Linked DNA regions of Homo sapiens. The protein of the gene in region 1 interacts with the protein of each later gene in a pairwise test. Each region holds a gene or a part of one and is shown in the gene's direction. Other genes may lie near its edges.

Region 1 (3,929 bases):
TAGGGAGAATGACTGGGTTCCTGCCCTTGTGTCCCCATCTGCGCTGCCTGCCCCTCAGGTCTGGTGACAGCAGGCAGTTAGGCTGACAGCTGCCAGGCGTGGTGTCACAGCACTGGCCGGGGGCCCTGTGCAGGGAGAGGATGAGGGTGGGGTGGGCTCGGGTGTGGCACTTGGCTCCCTGGGATGTCGGGAGCTGAGCTTTTCATGCTGCCCACGGTCCCCTCCTGTGCCTCTCCCCAGATCATCAGGGCTGCTGCCGACAGGGACAGGGAGACTGTGCGGGCGAAATCCATAGAGATGAAGTTCCTCACCGGCTACGAGGTCAAGGTGAGCAGGGTTGCGGGGGATCCCCTGGGCCTGCTGACCCAGGGCCCGGCTCCCTGTGTAAGAATGGATGAAAGCACAGGGGGCAGCTGCCCTCAAGGGGCCCCCAGAGCCCGGGCCTCCTTGGGCACGGTCTGAAAGCTGGGGCCCACCCCGGCCCATGCTGCCCTGCTGAGCGTGAGATTTTCCGAGTGGGCCAGTGAGTTGGGGACTTGTCGTGAAGCTCTTGTTTCTGCCTCTCACTCTTGCCCACTTAGGGCTTGGGGTTGGGCCTCGATTGAGCCAACGTGCAGAGCAAGTGGGAAGGGAAGCCCCAGCCCTCCCCTCATCGAGCCTCCCTGGGGGGAGTTGGAAGAAACCTTAGAAGCCTTTTAAATAAAGGGGAACGGTCTGTGCTGGTGCCGCCTGAAGCCACCCACAAAGTGGCATTTTCCGCTTGCTGCTTGACAGTGGGGAAGGAGTTAAAGAAATCCAGGTCAAGCCTTGGGTCTGCCGTCTCATAGGAGTGTCATTTGAGGCTTGTCAGTATCTCTGAGCCCCCCTTATCTCAGCTGTAAGCGCTCAGCGGGCAGCAGCTCTCTCCCGCCTCTTCCTTATGGCCACTCGCACTGACTCGATTCCTGGCCGCCCCGTCCCTCTGACCACCTTGGGCTGTCCCTGGCGGCAGCTCCTCTCCCCTGCTCTGCTGGCGGCGGCTTCCTTAGGTTGCTAGTTCCCGTGGGCAGACACACGGCTGCTGGGTGTGTCTTGGGTGGACTCTGGCAGGCTCAGACACGCATGGTGGGAGGCCCTGCCAGCTTAGGCCCACGGACTCTGTTCTTTTTGGCCAGAACAGTGTTTTGTTAAAACTCTGTATGAGTGCCACGAGGCGGGACGCATCCTCTGCACTCTGCCACAGGCCCCGCCACTCCCTTTTGTATCACATCAGCCCAGTCCATGTTACCCTCGTGTTCCCGGCCCCTGTGGGTTTGAGTTTATGCCCATTACCATGATGTAATCCAGTTTACAGCAGAGCTTTGAATGAGAACTCAGCGCCCCGGGCACTGTGGGAGGAACCCGGGCTGGTGGAGGGCTCTGGTGTCTCGCCGCCATTTATCCTTCCTCTCTTGCCCCAGGTCATGGAAGACGCCCACTTGGATGCCATCCTCATCCTGGGGGAGGCCTTCGCCTCTGATGAGCCTTTTGATTTTGGCACTCAGAGCACCACCGAGAAGATCCACAACCTGATTCCCGTCATGCTGAGGCACCGTCTCGTCCCCCCACCCGAGGAAACCTACTCCCTGCACAGGAAGATGGGGGGCTCCTTCCTCATCTGCTCCAAGCTGAAGGCCCGCTTCCCCTGCAAGGCCATGTTCGAGGAGGCCTACAGCAACTACTGCAAGAGGCAGGCCCAGCAGTAGGGCTGCGGGCCACGCCCAGGCCGGCTCCGCGGGAACTCTCTCCCTCAGACAGGCCAAAAACCAGTAGCGAGGTCGTGGTGATGCTCTTTTTAACTCCTTTGCCCAATAAGGGGGGTGGCTGCCTGGAGCCCCGTAGCCAGCGCTTTCCACGGTTTCTGTTGCTAAATGGTTGTAGGGTGAGAAGTGCAAGAATGAAGATGAAGCCCCACTGCTCGGTCAGTCTGCCTCCGTGTGTCCTCTGAAATAAGCAGATGAAGATGAAAGGGCAACTTTGTTTTCTTCTTTTTCCTGATGTGAATGTTAAGCAGAAGGGAGAGAGTCCTTACTCCCTTCCAATCTCTGTTCAGTGCAAAACCCAGAAACATGAACAGATACGATTGTGGGATTTTATCATCTGTGTAGTAGGTGTGTGTATGTGTTTCTAGAGTGAGATTTGTGTTTTCTGCCCTTTTCCTCTCCAGCCGATGGGCTGGAGCTGGGAGAGGTGCTGAGCTAACAGTGCCAACAAGTGCTCCTTAAGCCTGCGAGGCCCAGGCCTGTGGGGCTGGTTCTCACCTTTGACAGCTGAATGTTCCTAAAGAACTGCTGCCCCACAGTGAGGGTGGGAGCAGCGGAACAGGGAATGCCAGACACAGGCTCGCTGCTGCTGGAAGGCGGGGTGGGACTTCCTTCCTCTGTCCGGAGAGGCACAGGTGTCACCAGTTCCAGCCAAAGGCTCCTCACAGGCGCTGTGAATTTTTGTACAAGTCTTGTAATTATCGAATCAACAACTTGTTTCAATTTAATAAAAATGCTCATGGGAAGTGCTTTGGCGCGTGTACCCTCTTCTGTATTCTGGAGAATGACGACCCGTATCTTCTAGCTCGTGGTGGTGGTTCTTTTCTGACCTGACGGTCAGCAGGTTCAGTGTCACAGCCCATTTGCAAGGGTTGGGACTGGTTCAGCGTGAGGCCCTTGGCCCTGAACCTGGAAGGCTCAGCCCCGTTCCCTGTAAGAAGGGAGGTGGGAGGGGTGGAGAACAGGAGGAGAGGTTGCGGTGTCACTGCCCCAGCCCCCGGGAGGCTGTACCACACTGCTGAAGCTGCTGTACCTGGTGATGGTGGCAACTGGGAGGACAGTGACACCTGCCAGCACGGCTGATGCCAGGTCTGCATCACAGTGAGACGTCTCCTCTCTAGACATCAGCTGCAGTTGAGGACCACGTCCTGAAAAGTGGCTTTTCCTGGGGCCAGACTGATTCCTAGATAACAGGACACACTGGACACTGAGCTGGGGCCCTTTCTACGGACCTGTGAGCAGTTGAAAGTGCATCTGCAGAATGCACAGGCCCAAAAGAGGCTTTGAGAGGTATAGGCTTTCAGGGTTCTTAAAGAAAGAAAATATAGTTTCTGAAATTTGGGATTGCCGAGTAGCAGACCCAGTGGGCTCCGGGACAGGATGGAGAGGCCTGGGTGGCGTCCGTGAGGCTGCCTGGCTAGCAGCGGCGCCCAGCACCACTGTCAGATCCCTGGCTGAAACTCTTGTGGCCCTCTTCTTAAGGGTATTTGCTGTTGTCTAGCAAACTCCTCTGCAGCACTCAGATCTGAAGCCATCGCCCTGCAGAGTAAACAGCAGGGGAAGAACCCAGGCCAGCCCCAGCCAGGGCTCTCACAGTCTCCTCTTCCTCTTGAACAACAAGCCAAACAAGTCAAGCAGCAGCATGCGGGGGGAAGGGAGAGGAGAACAACAGCAGCCAGCATTTGCTTCCCCAGGAACCACGACCATAACTGCTGGAACAGGAGAAGTTTTCTAAGGGAAAACTGGAATGTGGTTTGTGTGTCCTAAGTCTGAGAGCCGGCTGAGAACTAGAGCCCTCCCTGTGAAGACAGTGGGGATCACTGGATTGCAAATGACTTTAATCCCCAAGTAAAGCTGGCTCTGAAGCTGGCCACACATACTTATTCTTTTGTACCTATTTTGATTTTTACAGTATTGTGATGAATGACTCCCCGTGCTCACCCATTCACACTGAGACATGGGGCATGAGAACATGGCAAATCATGGCTTGATTTTCCCAGGGTCTGTGTCTTCGTGTCCCTAACATCTAGTGAAGGGCTGGACACCACACAACAAAAAAATATTTGTTACTGTAGGCTTTGGCGGTTACTCATAAGGACAAAACACTAAACCATAGGCTAGAAGTTAGATTCTGAGTGCATTAACTCC
Region 2 (8,513 bases), on another chromosome or scaffold:
TAGAGGCCTCTAAGGAACTAATTAAGTTAAATAAGGTAATATGGGGTAGAGCCTAGATCCAATATGATTAGTGCCCTTATAAGAGACATAAGAGAAAAGGCCATGTGAGGACAGAGTGAAGGTGGCCATCTGCAAACCAAGAAGAGAGCCCTCACTAGAACCAAATCAGCTGGAACCTTAATCTTGAACTTCTAACCTCTAGTACAGTGAGAAAATTAATTTCTGCTGTTTAAGCCACCCAATCCATGGTGTTTTGTTCCCCAGCATATGGATATATATACATGTATACATATTATGCATCTTCTATTGATTCTGTTTCTCTGGAGAACCCTGACTAGAACAATACAGTCCTTCTAGGTCTTTCTTGGCCATCATCTATTGAGTTTCCCCTTGGTGGTTCTAAACCTCTCCTCTCTTTTCTACTGGTTCTCACTTTACTGGAGCAATTGAGTCCCTCAGAGTTGTCCTCAGCCTTGTCTCTGCCTCTAAAATCCTCCCTCCTTAGCCCATCCTTCCCACCACCTCTCCTTCTTCTATGACTTCAACCTCTATCTTCGGCATACAAATGTATTCAAGCATTCAAGTCTCTCTTACCTAAACATCACCCCAACCTTAGAGCCCTCTCTAGCCACAGCTCTCCCTCCTTTCCTCCTTTCCCCTTTCCTTTTTTTTTTTTGAGATGGAGTCTCACTCTGTACCCAGGCAGGAGTGCAGTGGGATGATCTCAGCTCACTGCAACCTCCACCTCCCAGGTTCAAGCAATTCTCATGCCTCAGCCTCTCCAATAGCCGGGACTACAGGCACATGCCACCATGTCCGGCTAATTTTTATATTTTTAGTAGAGGTGAGTTTTTGCCATGTTGGCCAGGCTGATCTTAAACTCCTGGCCTCAAGTGATCTGCCCGCCTCAGCCTCCCAAAGTGCTGGGATTATAGGCATGAGCCACCATGCCCGGCCCTCATTGCAAACCTTTTTTTTTTTTTTTTTTTTTTTTTTGAGACGGAGTTTCACTCTTGTTGCCCAGACTGGAGTGCAATGGCGTGATCTCGGCTCACCGCAAACCTCCGCCTCCTGGGTTCAAGTGATTCTCCTGCCTCAGCCTCCCGAGTTAGCTGGGATTACAGGCATGTGCCACCACACCCAGCTAATTTTGTATTTTTAGTAGAGACGGGGTTTCTTTATGTTGGTCAGGCTGGTCTCGAACCCCTGACCTCAGATGATCCACCCTCCTCGGCCTCCCAAAGTGTTGGGATTACAGGTGTGAGCCACGGTGCCCGGCTGCAAAGTTTTCTAATGTCTTCTACATTTAAATTTGCCCTCACTTCTCATTCTATATTAGGCAAAATTCTTTTTTTTTTTTTTTTTTTTTTGAGACAGAGTCTCACACTGTTGCCCAGGCTGGAGTGCAGCAGCGTGATCTCGGCTCACTGCAACCTCCGCCTCCTGGGTTCAAGCGATTCTCCTACCTCAGCCTCCTGAGTAGCTGGAATTACAGGTGCACACTACCATGCCTGGCTAATTTTTGTATTTTTAGTGGAGACGGGGTCTCACAATGTTGTCCAAGCTGGTCTCGAACTCCTGACCTCAAATGGTCCACCCATCTTGGCCTCCCAAAGTGCTGGGATTATAGGCGTGAGCCACTGTGCCTGGCCTGGATTAGGCAGAATTCTTTATGACAGAAACACAACTCAAAATTGTCTTAAGGGGAAAAAAAATAGAATTTATTTGTTCACAGAGCCAAAAAGTACAGAAGTAGATCTTTCACTTCAAGCATGGCTGAATCCAGGTCCTCAATGATACCAACAGGAAGTTGTCTTTCTCACTCTCTGCATTCCTCCATGTTGACCTCATTCTCACTCTCAATCTCTCCTCTTGATGACAAGATGACCACAAGAAGCTCTAAGCTTACACTTTGCCTGCTTGTCAGCTCCAGCAGAAAGAGTTAGCTCTTTCCCTAAGATTCTAGTAACAGTCCTGGAATTGAGCCTCATGAGCCTGGTTTGACTCACTTGTCCATTCCCAATCATTTGGGCAGGGAATGGGATGTTCTAATTGGCCAGGCCTGGGTCACATGGGGGTGGTCCACTCAATCCAAACCACAAAACTGAAAATGAGGAAGAATGGTTCCCCAAAGGAATATTGGAGTGCTGGTATCAGAACAAAGGGAATTGGATGTAGGCAGGCAGAACCAACAGATGTCCACTATGCTTCCATCCCTCAACCTAGTGCAAACTGATTTCCACTCCTGGCATCCACTGACATCTCTCTCACCAAGGTGACCAGGGAACTTGATGGCCAAGAGCATCTGCTCAGCTCTCATTCTTCACCTTTCTGCTAGTCACTCCTTCCTTCTGCAAACTCTGCTTGACTTCCATCACCCAGCTCTAACTGAACCCTCTCCAATCTCTCTGACCCACCCCTCTACCTCCTTCACATATAGCCATCCTCCAAGATTTAGGCCTCAGTCCTTCCCTCTCTAGTCTCCATCTGTGGTCCCACTCTCTCCTATACACACTTCTGTTGGGAGCCGAAAAGGCCAAAGGGATCGTGACCAACTCAGCATTCCACTGGAGGCTATATGATCAAACAGCAAACTGTTTATCATGAATGTAGGATGTGAGCAAACACACTGCACCTGCCACCAAAAGGTTTGCTGATGGACATCACTCCTTGGTGCAGGGCTCCTTGAAGTTATCTAAGAAATCTAGCACCTATTGTTCAAAAGATGCAGTCTCACAAGCCTGCTGTGAACCAAACCTCTAACTGACAATTACCGACAATCACCCCCCCTTTCTCGCTCTCTTTTGCCTACGAAATACGGAGGGATGTGTAAAACTCAGGGCCCTTGTCCACTAGAGGCAAAGTGCCCCCTGACCCCTTCTTCCAAATATACTCTTTTGTCTTGTCTTTTATTCCCATTGCCCACCCACCTTTGTTCAGTCCACCAGGGATCATGGCAGGCTACACACTTCTAGTTCCTGGACATCTTCTAAATCTTCTGTCTCCCAGCAATCACCTGGGCTCCCCCAAAGCCCTCAAACTAATGGTTCTGGCAATTTCACAGATTCATGATTTATGACCCCATCCTTTCCCCTTGCCTTTTTCCCAGCCCGTACCTCTGGTCGGTCACCAAGTTAGTCACTTCCCTACTGGGACCCGCTTTCCCATCAACGCTCCCCACTCAGCTCCATACCTCTGCCCTGCCCAGACCTTCATCATGTCACTCCTGACATCTCTGCCCACAGCCTCTGCCCCATCCATCCTGCAACCAGGGACCCGATTAACCTCCTAAGCAGCAGTTGATCAAAACATTCCTTTATCTGAAACCTTCTATGGTTCCTTATTGCCATTAAGATTCCTTAACATGGAATGCTTTCAGGGCTCCAGAATCTGTCCCCAGATTTTCCTTCAATTATTCATCTTGCTGAGCTCTTCAGACTCCAACTAATTTACTCACTGTCCCCAAAACATGCCAAACATTTTCCCACCTCTGAACTTTTACATGACACTAACATTAGACCCTCATTATTGACTCTTCTAAACGTTCCCCATATTTCAAAACTGAGCTCCAAGCCACCTCTGTGAAATCATCCGTAAACACATCAGCTATTCCTCCAATTTTGAGTGTATACTTGTTTGTTGCTTTTGCATAATATGTAATGCCTCCTCTAGCAAGGGAATCACAGGAGAGTTTCTCCCAAAGTCATGCATTTCCCCAAAAAGAATGCTGTCTGTTCCGGAGCTACTACTGTTGTGAGCAACTAAAAGTTGTCTTCCTTGGGCTCTCTCATAGTAGTCCCTGCCCCTCTTTTCCTCATGAGACTATGTCAAGGCTAATGTGAAAATACTTCATGCACTGTTGCCAATGTATGTTAGGGATGAGCATAAAACAACAGACAAGGGGAAACAGAATCAATTGCAGACCCTAACATTTTAACTTTCTTAAATGTTTTTCTTCAACACTTTCCTATGGTTCATACTTTAAATGACTTTAAAATTATGCTTTAAGTAAATATATGCTTTAAATAATTTTTATTTGCTTCATTTTTCCTTCATAGCTATCCCTTTTTTTTTGTCATCAAAGATATGTGCGTTTTTTATAAAAACACTTTCTTGTCCCCTGCTGACTACCTCTGGAAGCTTCTTGTTGACCTCTGGTTTTTTGGTTTCTTTTTTTGGCTTTTCATTTCTTAGGGTGGTGGTGGTGGTAGTGAAGGAGAGGGGTCTTCTGGTGGCCCCTGCATAAGCACTCCCCCTCAACATGAGCATGATTAACTGGAACCACTGTTATTTCTGTGGTGTAGACAAAATGAGCCATGTAGCTATTAACATCTCCCTGATTTAAAAAGAAACACGGAACTTTCTTTTTCCTGCTGTCCTTAGGGAGGAAAGGTGTAAATATAAGAGACTGTAGCTAGTATCTTGGAAGTCCCCAGGAGACAGGCGTTTCCTCTTGGTCACTGACTCTCTGGGTCACTGACGCTCCTTGAACAGCAGGGCCACCGTGTCTCCCTTTGAAGCAAGTGATCCTTAAGGAATTTTCCAGGTTTAGTAACTTCTGTCTAGCTCCGAAAAGACGTAATGGCTGCAAAAGTGCTTCGTTGAAGAAGATAAGATATATTCATTTTTAAATAAAAATACTTATGGGCGAGAAAAATCGGAGTGGACTGAATCAATTACAGTAAATCTATGGGCTCTAAGGGAGCAAATAATCCAGGCTGGCTGAAAGAATTAAATATTTTAAATTTATAAAGCCAGGGACCCTCAAATCCATAAAAGGATTCAATCTTCTTCTTCTTTTTTTTTAGGATTCAATCTTCTAATAATCCCGGGAGGGGGCGCAAGAGCAGGATTCTTGTTTCTATTTTACGAATGAGGAAACTGAGGTTCAGAAAGCCTAAGTGGCATGCCTCTTCAGTAATCGGCCAATCGTCGCTGCCCTAACTTCACCTCACCTCCCAGTGCAGCACTAGAGTCCCCTCAGGGGTGGCCGTCCCTGGTCAGTCCAGCTCCAGCAGACGGGGTGGGTAGGACGCTCCCTATCAGGCAGCACTTCCGCCTCCCGGGGCCCGCGCAGCTCACCTCCCTCACCTCCCGCCCTACCCCAGTCACGAGTTGTTTTAGGGGGACCGCCCCTCCACTTGCTGATTGGGTAGCTCCTGAACCATTGTTGTCCTCTGATTGGTTGTTCCCTTTTCGGCTCTGCAACACCGCCTAGACCGACCGGATACACGGGTAGGGCTTCCGCTTTACCCGTCTCCCTCCTGGCGCTTGTCCTCCTCTCCCAGTCGGCACCACAGCGGTGGCTGCCGGGCGTGGTGTCGGTGGGTCGGTTGGTTTTTGTCTCACCGTTGGTGTCCGTGCCGTTCAGTTGCCCGCCATGGCTGAGCTGGATCCGTTCGGCGCCCCTGCCGGCGCCCCTGGCGGTCCCGCGCTGGGGAACGGAGTGGCCGGCGCCGGCGAAGAAGACCCGGCTGCGGCCTTCTTGGCGCAGCAAGAGAGCGAGATTGCGGGCATCGAGAACGACGAGGCCTTCGCCATCCTGGACGGCGGCGCCCCCGGGCCCCAGCCGCACGGCGAGCCGCCGGGGGGTCCGGGTGAGAGTGCGGGCGCGTTTGGGGCGAGAGGACTTGTCTGGAAACTCGGTCCACAGTGGGTCCGAGAGCTTCTGTGTGACTCGTGCTCCTTGCTGAATTAGGAGGTTAGGGAGCAGTGCAAACAGGAAACGAGACCCTGGCCCGGTCTTTCAGAAACCTAGGCTCGAGAAGCCTGTTCGGTTCTCAGCATGTTTGAGTGCTTCTGGGCGCGGGCGGAGCGAGAAAGCAAGTGTAGGGTGGCAGGCTCCGGAGCCGGAAGAAGCCCGTTCAATTCAGCAACTTTTCATTAAGCATTTGCTGTGCCTTTAGTCCGGTCTCTGAAGCAACCGCATTGGCGCAGTTTTTCCAGACTTATAAGCTTATAAGTCTGAGCCGAGCACAGAACTCGTTATTAGAAAAGGAGGGCGGAAAAAAATAAGAATGGAAATATCGTTTTTGAGAGATACAAACAAAAGTAGCAATGCAGTTCAGCATTTAAGCACTTAAGGTGTACAGAGTGTTGGATTACGAGGAGGAAGGAGGGAGTAGGGAACTCGAAAGATGATCTAGGTCTGGAGAAAGAACTGCCAAGCGCGGTAGGAGTTTGCTATCGTTGAGCGATTGATTTACAGCTAGGACTTCTGGAGCTCTTCCTCTGGGAACAGCTTTGGTAGGCAATATTGCCTAAGCAGAACCCAAGATTAGCCTAAACCAATCAGGGAGGGATGAAGAGGTGAATAGAGAATGTTCTCAGCCAAACTCAAGTAAAAATGGGGCAGGTAGGATGGCAGTTTGACCTTTGGATGCCTTAACCTGTGTGTGATGCTTAGGATCATGAGTGGAAAAGACCTACTTAATAATACAAAGAAGTAGGAAATTTAGCTAGAAGAAATGAAATACGGCTTTTCATTCACTTAAAAAATTCCAACTAAGGGAGAATAGGGCACTACTGGGGCATATAGGAGTAGTGTCTACCCTAAATTCAAACCTTAAGGAGCCAGGTAGGTAACATATACGAGAGAAGCTGGCTTGACATGAGACAGTAGAAGTGTTGGAGACTGAGGCTTTGCTGCACTATAGTAGTGCTCTGTGTAAAGGCATTCAGATCCAGCAGTCTCAAGTTACTGTGCCAGCCAGGCGGAACCTTTTGATGGATGGGTTGGTGGGTGTGCTGCTAGTTTGCAGCCTCTTGAGTTTTTGACTGCACCATGTTGCTTCCTAAACAAATCAGTCCCCCAATAAGAACTTAGTGGGAACATGTAATATGCCCGAATATGCAACTTTATAGCGGGTAGGTTGGACTAAACTAGGCTGTGATTGTGAGATGAAGTTGGCCTTAAGTGATTAGGGGATATTTTCATTGGGTGGTCTCTAACATTTGTCTGAGAATTTTAAAATTGACTTCTTAGACCCTTAGTTTAACCTTCCTCATTTAATAGAAGAGAAGCAATCCTAGAGAGAAACGACTTGCTTAAAAAAGCACGAGTTAATAGCTGAGCCCCAAGTCTACCCACTCTTAGAATATACCACATTCTGTTGCAGTGTTTAGTTGTTTTAGCAGGGGTGTAGTGCGATAACAGACAGGCAGCTGTGGCTGTCCCAGGTGGAACAGATTTGGGAGAAGCAGAACCCAAGATCTGTAGTTGGAAGATTGTCCTGATTCAAGGACAGTGTTACCCTTACTGTTTTATCTCCACTGCCTAGCAGTGTGTCTGACATGTAGTAGATGCTCACGTTTGACAAAGAAATGGGCAAAAATGTCAGATCCAAGGGTCCTATGTAGAACTGACAGATCTTGGTGACGGGCAGTTAGGGAAGGTAAAAGGGAGAGAATAGAGTTGGATGCTCGGTCCTTTGTGCATCAAGCCTTCGGCAAAGGGAAGGAAAGAAATGGTTGCTGACTTAGTTCCTAGGAGGGACTTTCTTAGTGAACTAAGCATTTGGTGACTTAAAGCCAGATTCCTGACAGTGTAATTGAAGTTGGTAATATGCAGTGGTCAGCATTTCCTTTGGAGTTTAGAGAACTGATTGGACACTTTTTCTCTCTTAGTTTTCTTTTTCCTTCTTTTTTTTTTTTTTTAAAGATATGCTCTAGTGGTTAAGATTCTATGCTATCCTAAACTGCTTGAGTGTGAGTTTAGCTTTGTGATCTCAGACAATGTATATAACTACCACCACTGCCCGGCCTCAGTTTTCTCCTTTGTAAAAGTTGCATAATATAATTTATAATGCTATGTGGCATCTTTAGGATTACATTAAAGAGTGTCTATAAAGTGCTTACAGTTATATTAAGTATCTAGTGAATTCCAGCTACTATTAGTGGGAGAAAGGAGTTACAAGGCCTTTAGGCTTTGAAGTGTACTGAGTAAATTGAGGTTTTAGGCGGGAGCTCTCTTTCTGATGTATTATACAGAGATATATAGGCAGTCAGCTATGACAGATTGATGAGAGGAAAATAAACTGGCCCCAGCCTTGCGGAAAGCGTCTATGGAGGATGGGCACAGGCAAAAACCAGAGGGGTTAGGGCTAAGCCTTGGATGACTCCTTTGGTTGTTAAGAGATCCAGAAAAGAGACGTAGGTTTAGAGGCAGGAAGAAACCAGCTGGGTGAAGTGATATTGAGGTAACCAGCTGTGGGGGATATTGAGGAAGAACAGGTGGTCATGAAGGAGGCAGCACAAGTGGAGCTGTTGAAAAGCTCTCAATCATGAGGGCTGAGTCGGGGAAGAGAACAGGAGAGACAAGCCACAGAGAGAGTACAGCAGTAAGGCACTATTATGGTGTTTTGTTGTTTTTGAGACAGTCGCTCTGTCACCCAGGCTGGAGTGCAGTGGTGCGATCTCGGTTCACTGCAACCTCCGCCTCCTGGGTTCAAGCAGTTATCCTGCCTCAGCCTCCCGAGTAGCTGGGATTACAGGCGCCCACCACCGTGCCCAGC
Region 3 (8,178 bases), on another chromosome or scaffold:
TTTATATATAACTTCAGGGGTTTCTAGAGCCCATGGCTTAAATATGGCAATAGCAATGTCTCATGTTTGTGGAGCTCTTTATGGATGATTGGGTCTCTACAGCAACACGAAAAGTTAAGGCCAGTAAAAAATGTATTGTGTGCTGCTGTTCATAAAGTGGCCTGCCTTTTTGCGTTCCTGTCTAGAAGATGAGAGAAAAAAAATAATAAGTGAGCGTTCATCACTTATGTTGCCCTGTCTGTGTGGTGTCTTAGTCCATTCAGGCCACTATAACAAAAATACCAGGCCGGGCGCGGTGGCTCACGCCTGTAATCCCAGCCCTTTGGGAGGCCGAGGCGGATGGATCACAAGGTCACAAGATCGAGGCCATCCTGGCTAACACAGTGAAACCCCGTCTCTACTAAAAATACAAAAAATTAGCCGGGCGTGGTGGCAGGCACCTGTAGTCGCAGCTACTCGGGAGGCTGAGGCAGGAGAATGGCGTGAACCGGGGAGGTGGAGCTTGCAGTGAGCCGAGATTGCACCACTGCACTCCAGCCTGGGCTACAGAGCAAGACTCCGTCTCAAAACAAAAACAAAAACAAAAACAAAAATACCATAAACTGAGTGACTTATAAACAACAGAAATTTCCCACAGGCTGCAGGTCAGGAAGTCCAAGGTCAAGGCACTGACTGATTCGGTGTCTGGTGAGGTTCTGCTTCCTGGTTCAAAGACGGTGCCTTCTCACATAGACAATGCCACCTCATGTGGTGGGAGGAGCAAGGGTCTCTCTGGGGCCTCTTGTATAAGGGCACTAATCTCATTCGTGAGGGCTCCACACCCATGGCCTCATCACCTCCCAAAGGCCCTGCCTCCCAACACCAGCACCTTTGGGAAGAGGATTTCTGCATTTGAATTTGGGGGGACACAAACATTTAGACCACAGTGGGGCATGGCATTTCTATCAGAAAGGTCTGCATTTTCTCCAGGCCCTCGGGTTGCCTGGGATCCTCATCTCTGGCTTCAGACCATGACCTTAAAGAGCATCCCCTTTTCCTTCTTTCAGGGCAAGGTAAGCTCAAGCTCTCGGGGGCTTGGAAACCAGGGAGGTATGCCTCCAGCCAAGAGTAGCTCTTCAGCCAGGGACGTGCATGGCAGGGGTCAGCAAGGCTTCTGGGGCTTGGGTGTCTACTCTCAGCAAGCACATGAGATGGGATGGCAGCAGTGCCTATCACATGGGGGTTTATCCTGCATTGGGCGGTTCTGAGTGTGAAATGGGATCTAAATGCACTCATGCACATGCACTCTCATAGATGCATTTTCTCATTAAAATCATTTATTAGGTGGGGCATGGTGGCTTATACCTGTAATTCCATCAATCTGGGAGGCTGAGGCTGAAGGATTACTTGAGGCCAGGAGTTTGGGACCAGCCTGGGCAACATAGTGAGACCCTGTCTCAAAAAAAAAAAAAATTTAAGCATTTATTAGCCACACCTCAGTGCCAGGTCTGGCAACAATTTAGCCGTTGTTGTGCTCTCCAGGAGCCCACATTACAGGTAGGAGAGTTGTAAACTGCTTCAGATGCAGGGCAGTAACTGCTGTAACAATTAATAGTGGTAATGACAGCAGTAACAGGCATTGGACACCTGTCAGGCCCCAGACGCCGCCGTGATCCTCATCACCACCCTTAGAGCTGGGGTTTGCGGCTCCTTCCATGCATAGGGAGTTGAGGCTTGCAAAAGGGTCACACAGCCAGGTGAGGTGGAACTGGAGTTTGAACCCAGGACTGTGTGGACCAGAGCTCTTATCTGTTACAGTCTACTGCATGAGGGAGTAGAAAAGGGCTTGGAAACCCAAAGGAGGGACTGCCCCATCTGGAGGAGTGAGGGAATGCTTCCTGGAGGAGGTGATGCCTGGGTGGGGGTCGTGGCCTCACCTCTCCTTGTGATAAAATCAAGGGCAGGAGGCTGCCAGCAAATAGTTTCTGTTAGTCCGGCCATGACTTGAGGGTGGTGACGATCCACACGTGGGCCTTCAGGTGGGGCTGCCCATCTCCCAGGGCAAGGACAGTGGCCTTTAGCATGCCAGTCACCTTCCTGCTAGTCCAGACCCTTCACACTTGAAGCTCCCAGGGGACCGCAGGACCCATTCATCACATTTTAGGGACATGGTGTCTTGCTGCCCACAATGCTGATTCAGCCTCTGCCCTGCAGCACTGCTCCCGCCCAGGCCAGCGGGCCCTTATGCTTGCTTTCCGGGGCAGGCTGCACACTTACCTGTGGTGTAGGCGCGGCATCTAGTGGACACTGTGAGAACTTCACCCAGCTAGCTGGCACCCAGCCCAGGCGTAGCTCTTGCCACTCAGGAAGCCCTCCCTGGTGCAGAGCAGGGACTTGGAAAGTGCCTGTTGGATGACTGTCTGGGAAGCTATGTGGGGAGATGAGGAAGGTGGGAGACACAGATGTTTACCTTTGCCAGCTCCCACCTACCCCTCATCCTCCACAGGTACCCAGCCCTCTGTCCCCTGCCAGCCCGTTTCTCCTGAAGTGTGGGACCCTCTGGGCCTTCCTAATGTCTCTTGCTTTTGCACAATGTTGACAATGTGGTTCCACGTCCCACATCTCCCTTCATCCCCACAGCAGCCCTGGGAGTTAGGGGAATATCATTATTCCAGTGTAAGAAGAAACAGACCCAAGGACAGCTAATGGACCAGTGGTCTGCTCGTAAACCTAGTCTGGCAGGTGATCTCTTCTTTGCTGGTGGTTCTGGGCAGTGTGAGAGGTGCAGGCTCAAGGGGCATCTGAGTGAGAACCTCATCCATGCCGAGATGGAGGGTGGGAGGCAGAGCTGCTCCTGCCTTTGCTCACTCCAGCCCATGCCCGCAGCTCCTGTGCAGAGAGGGACGAGTGGTATGGCTGTCTGAGCAGAGCCCTCCCTGAGGACTACAAGGCCCAGGCGCTGGCTGCATTCCACCATAGCGTGGAGGTGAGTGGGTGGGCAGGGCCCACGGGCCACCAGCTTCAGAGACCTGGGGTTCCCTGGGCGGGCATTGCTGTTGCCACTCACACCCAGATGGACGTGTAGCTCCTGTCTTGGGGCACTGGCTCCCCCCACACCCCTGCCATGCTCCCACCCTAGTCAGGGGCGGCCTCCGTGTAACCTAGGAGCCCAGCACCCACAGTCTTGTTCTCACAGTCTGGCTGTTTCCCAACCAAGGGTGAGCATCCTGGAGGGTGCAGGAGAGGCCTTTCACATCAGACCCACTCACCCACACATCACACACCCTGCACAGAGACGCAGGGCAGGGCTCACTGGGCTCTGCATCTGGCTGGTCTCCTGGCCACATTCCACATTACTCAGCCAATTCTGTTGCTGCAGATACGAGAGAGGCTGGGGGTTAGCCTTGGGGAGAGGCCCCCCACCCTGGTGCCTGTCACACACGTCATGATGTGCATGAACTGCGGCTGCGACTTCTCCCTCACCCTGCGGCGTCATCACTGTCACGCCTGTGGCAAGGTGAGTCGCTGCATCTGGGGTGAGTGTGTGCATGGGGGTGGGGTGGGGGAAGGGCATGTCCCTGCCCAGCCGGGGGCTCAGGGATGTCCAGCAGCTACTGTAAGCCCCAGAGTGAGGCATGTTCACACCAACCCGAGAGGAACAGATTGCTAATTCCCATTTTATAGATCATCAAACCAGAGCTCCAAGTCCCAGGCCTCTTCCACACCACCACGTTTTCAACAGAAAACCGTAGCATACGTGGCTATTGTGCTTGGAGAAAAAAGTATCATGTAGTGGTTAAGGGCGCGGGCTCATCAGAAAAGCAGATAGGCGCTGGCTCAGAAACAAGATGAAGCCTTGCCGGAAAAGTAGGGGACACGCACAGCTCCATGATCAGAACCTGGGGCTCCCTAGGGGCAGTTGTGGGTGGATTAGCAGAGGGAGCGGAGGGGAGGGGTGCAGGTCTCCTTTGCATGCACTGAGAGGGGTGAGAATCTTCCCACCTGGGCCTGCAGATCGTGTGCCGGAACTGTTCGCGGAACAAGTACCCGCTGAAGTACCTGAAGGACAGGATGGCCAAGGTCTGCGACGGCTGCTTCGGGGAGCTGAAGAAGCGGGGCAGGGCTGTCCCGGGCCTGATGAGAGGTAACCTGGGGACCACTTGCCTTCTTCCAAGTGGCCTGGTGGCTTCTCCCCAGGCTCCAGTGGCTTCTCTGTGGTCCATGGTTCATGCCTGAAACCGCTTTCCCTGGAGGGAGTTATTCACTCCATGGAGGGAGGAAACAGAGGTTCGGGCACCATTTTCCAATATGTGGATTCTGTGGAAAATTGATCGGTGTCCCCAGAAGAAGAGCTCTGTGGGTAGCTAAGCTTAGGAATCAGTGTGTGTGTAAGGGGACAGAGGCAGGGAGCTCCTGTGTCCTTTACCATAGAGGCCCTCTTGTCAAGTATCCTATAGGCCTGTGCCTGTAGCGCCTTTCTGGGACTAAGGACTATATAAGCGTGGCAGCAGAGGAGCTGGGGTCAGGGAGGGGTGAAGCTGTTCCACACAGGAGCCTTGGGAAGCTGAGCCGGCCCCTGAGAGACCTGGTCAGTGCTGAAGGGACAGGCCTTGCCCAAGCAGGGTCAAGTTCCCAGGAAGGAGAGCAGGTGTATCTTGGGCCTAAAACTAAAGTCTTTCCCTGGCCTCCACTCCACGGGGCTGGACTAAGGTCATCAGAGAAGACAGCCCAGTCCCTGCTACCTGGAGGCCTGGAGGTGAAGGGCTGTCCAGCGCCCTGGAAAAGCGTCCCCTCCCCAGCCCCCATAGCCTTTGTCTGTTCCTGCAGGAGGGAGGGAGGAAGAGTGCTTGACTTTCAGGTCCCACTTAACCCCCATGGCTCACATTCCTAGAGGGATTTTACAGGAATCAGTGTTCCAAAGACAAGCCGCAGGCACGCCTCTCACCTCCCTTCCATGTGGCTTCTTTCAGTTACAGAGCGGCCTGTGAGCATGAGCTTCCCGCTGTCTTCACCCCGCTTCTCGGGCAGTGCCTTTTCATCCGTCTTCCAGAGCATTAACCCCTCGACCTTCAAGAAGCAGAAGAAAGTCCCTTCAGCCCTGACAGAGGTAAAGCAGGCAGGGCTACCCAAGTGGGAAGTAGGGCATTTGGAAGGTTCATGGTCATCCTGGGTAGACGGAGTCAGACCCTGCCCTGTCCCAGCCTGACCAGTCTCTTCCAGACAGAGCATTCCTAATGGAAGCATCCCAGCTACGAGGACCGACTTGACAGTGATGGTGCTAGGCGACATCTTTCCCATCCTTCTCTCTACCTCTCCCCTCCTCCTCTTTCTTTTCTCTCCTTTTTCTCCTGCCCCATAGCTTAGATCTAGTACCCAAGCAGACTGCACAGATCACGGGGGCTCTTCATTCTAAAGGAGCCAAATTCCTGTGTTGGTCCTTCCATGTCATCCCCTCATCCTAGGGGTCCCAACCCGGCTCAGGTGTTGACGTCCCTGGAGGCCATGGGCTCCGCAGGAAACTTCAGAACTGGCTAAACTCAATTGTATCCCACAAATAGGACCAGATTGTATGTCTGTATTTCCATTCACAACCACAGACCAATGTATGTCTGTGAATACACAAGGAGTCCACAAGTGTGATCAGCTGCTTCCAAGTTAGTCCATTAATATCAAGTAGCAGGTAGCAAGGGTTTAAAAAAGTGTTAGGGAATGGAAAATTTAAATAGGTACAGTTTTATCCATTAACTTGTTCCTTTTGCAAATTAAAAATCTTGGAAATCACACATACGGCCGGGCGCGGTGGCTCACGCCTGTAATCCCAGCACTTTGGGAGGCTGAGGTGGGCAGATCACGAGGTCGGGAGATCCAGACCATCTTGGCTAACACAGTGAAACCCCATCTCTACTAAAAATACAAAAATCAGCCGGGTGTGGTGTCATGCAGCTGTAGTCCCAGCTACTCGGGAGGCTGAGGCAGGAGAATCGCTTGAACCTCAGGGAGGTGAAGGTTGCAGTGAGCTGAGATGGCGCCACTGCACACCAGCCTGGCGACACAGCAAGACTCTGTCTCAAAAAAAAAAAAAAAAAAAAAAAAAAAACACATACATGGTTAAACATTTTTCCCAAAAAAGTACAAAACAGCACATATGATGAAAAGTGAGTTTCTCATCCTTCCCAGCCTCCCTCAATCCCACTGCCATCAAGTTTCTTATGGAACCTTGTGGAAATTTTCATGCACATACATAATACAGATGTACATTCATAGATCTTCTTTTTCTACCCAGAAGACAACATATTATACAGAATCTCTTCTGTTTTCTCCACTTAATTTGTCTTAGAGATCATTTCATAATCACATATATGTATAAACCTCACATTTTTTACATTGCATTCCTCTTTTACTAGTAAGGAAATTGAGACTTAGAAGAAGTCAGCAAATTGCTCATCATTAACCACCTAGTAATTGGTAGAGCCTGAATGGGAAATCCAGGTTGGTATTAACTCCAAGCCTGCGTTCCTCACCACATAAAGCCTGTGGACAGAATACTACTACCCCCCGCCACCACAAAGAGTAGTAATAATAATAAAAGGACTTAACGCTGCACACACCCCACTAGGCAGGAGACTATAATACCTTTTAGGCAACAGTACAAAGAGGATCCCTCCCTAAATGTGAGGAAGAGATAAGTTGAAAGTGCAAGAGTTAATTTTAGAAGGAAGAACCTTTCGCCGAAGTACCTGAACGAAGTTTCTTGAGTTGAGGGGCTTAGGTTGAGAGGGAACCAAGAATCTGAAAAACCACTAGAGGGCAGCATCAGCATTCCCAAAGTCAGCTGGGTCCATTCATTAAATCCTGTTTCTCAAAGCATGAAGCACTATCTTGCTGACTTTGGTACTGGATAGATCCTGAGACCTTATCCAGTGTCAAAGCAGTATAAGTAGTCAGCCAAATGGTTTGCAGTGTCATTTTGAATTGTGCTCTGTTTGAACTGTGCCTGACCACCGGGGTGGGCTGACCGCTCTGCTTCCCTCCTGCCAGGTGGCTGCCTCTGGAGAGGGCTCTGCCATCAGTGGCTATCTCAGCCGGTGTAAGAGGGGCAAGCGGCACTGGAAGAAGCTCTGGTTTGTCATCAAAGGCAAAGTTCTCTACACCTACATGGCCAGTGAGGTAGTAGTGATCTGCACTCTCTCCCCTCTCCTCTCTCCTGTGAAATGACCCCCTGGGGCCTGCACACATCCTGTCACTTGCAAAGCTGTGTGAGTCCTGGCTGCTGAGCCAGTTCTGGTGGCAGTCAAGTCTTTAGTGAGCAATGCCATGTGCTCAATGTTGCTGTGGCTACACAACCACATATCACTTCAAAATCTAAGGAATTTGCAGTTTCTTTGTGGATATAAGAAGGTACGGACATGCCAAGCTGTGCCGCAAAGTGTTTAAATGGCACAGGCCCAGCATCTAGGACAAAGATGGAACAAGCCAGCCATGCCACAAAAGAAAACACCTTCCTACTGTCTGCTTAGATTGCTTGGGGCAAAATTCAGCAGTGTGGAGGAAGCTACTCCCTTTTTGTCTGTCCATTTCTTTTATAGGGTAACTCTAGTAATTCTTCTAAAGAAAACTGAAATCTATATTTTATAGAATATCTTACTTTAGGTGAGAGAGCCTTGGAAATCAAGCTTACTTCCAGAGTAGACAGATGTGTGGCCATGGTTGTGTAGCAGGGTGCTGTCTGGCCCTGACCCAGGCTGAACCTGTTGGATAATGTGAAACATTTCTATCTCCATGCTTCACCAGCTGGTGGCTTCTAGGTGGTCAGGCATAGTTTCAGCTTTGAAAATGGGAGTTAAATGTATTCTGACGAGCTGCAGAGGGTGGGTGCTTTGCTCCACTGGGATATGCATGTCAGGGCTGGCTCTTCTCCCCTGGCCACAGATGCTAGCAAATGTGCAAAAGGCACTTCCTTCTTTGGGGCATGAAGCTTCCCTCTGGAAGGACCTGCAACTGTGAAGGTTGCCGTGTGCCCATTCCCAGGGATCACAGAGGATGGCTTTCTAGAAGAAATTGCTTTGGAGCCATACTTAAACACTTAGCAAGGCCCCACATCTGTTTACTCTAAGCAAAGCAGGCAGACAGGGGATCTGCCATAGGCCTGAGCGGCTTGGGTACCCGGTAAGCTGCACCCCACCCTGAGGGGCCTTTGCC

The links.
Region 2: the proteins of COQ8A (region 1) and CLTA interact in binary tests that used the Homo sapiens proteins (3 or more experiments, as listed by UniProt).
Region 3: the proteins of COQ8A (region 1) and FGD5 interact in binary tests that used the Homo sapiens proteins (3 or more experiments, as listed by UniProt).

Annotation. Positions count from the first base shown.
Region 1 is NC_000001.11:226,985,014-226,988,942, forward strand, and holds the end of COQ8A (atypical kinase COQ8A, mitochondrial), read left to right. Parts: intron 1-240; coding exon 241-327; intron 328-1,439; coding exon 1,440-1,724; 3' UTR 1,725-2,531; downstream 2,532-3,929. UniProt on the Homo sapiens protein: Atypical kinase involved in the biosynthesis of coenzyme Q, also named ubiquinone, an essential lipid-soluble electron transporter for aerobic cellular respiration.
Region 2 is NC_000009.12:36,185,677-36,194,189, forward strand, and holds the start of CLTA (clathrin light chain A), read left to right. Parts: upstream 1-5,244; 5' UTR 5,245-5,380; coding exon 5,381-5,597; intron 5,598-8,513. UniProt on the Homo sapiens protein: Clathrin is the major protein of the polyhedral coat of coated pits and vesicles.
Region 3 is NC_000003.12:14,919,053-14,927,230, forward strand, and holds part of FGD5 (FYVE, RhoGEF and PH domain-containing protein 5), read left to right. Parts: intron 1-1,294; exon of another isoform or gene 1,295-1,431; intron 1,432-1,660; exon of another isoform or gene 1,661-2,407; intron 2,408-2,865; coding exon 2,866-2,965; intron 2,966-3,248; exon of another isoform or gene 3,249-3,358; coding exon 3,359-3,496; exon of another isoform or gene 3,497-3,993; coding exon 3,994-4,123; exon of another isoform or gene 4,124-4,296; intron 4,297-4,924; exon of another isoform or gene 4,925-4,949; coding exon of another isoform or gene 4,950-4,955; coding exon 4,956-5,086; intron 5,087-7,017; coding exon 7,018-7,146; intron 7,147-8,178. UniProt on the Homo sapiens protein: Activates CDC42, a member of the Ras-like family of Rho- and Rac proteins, by exchanging bound GDP for free GTP. Mediates VEGF-induced CDC42 activation.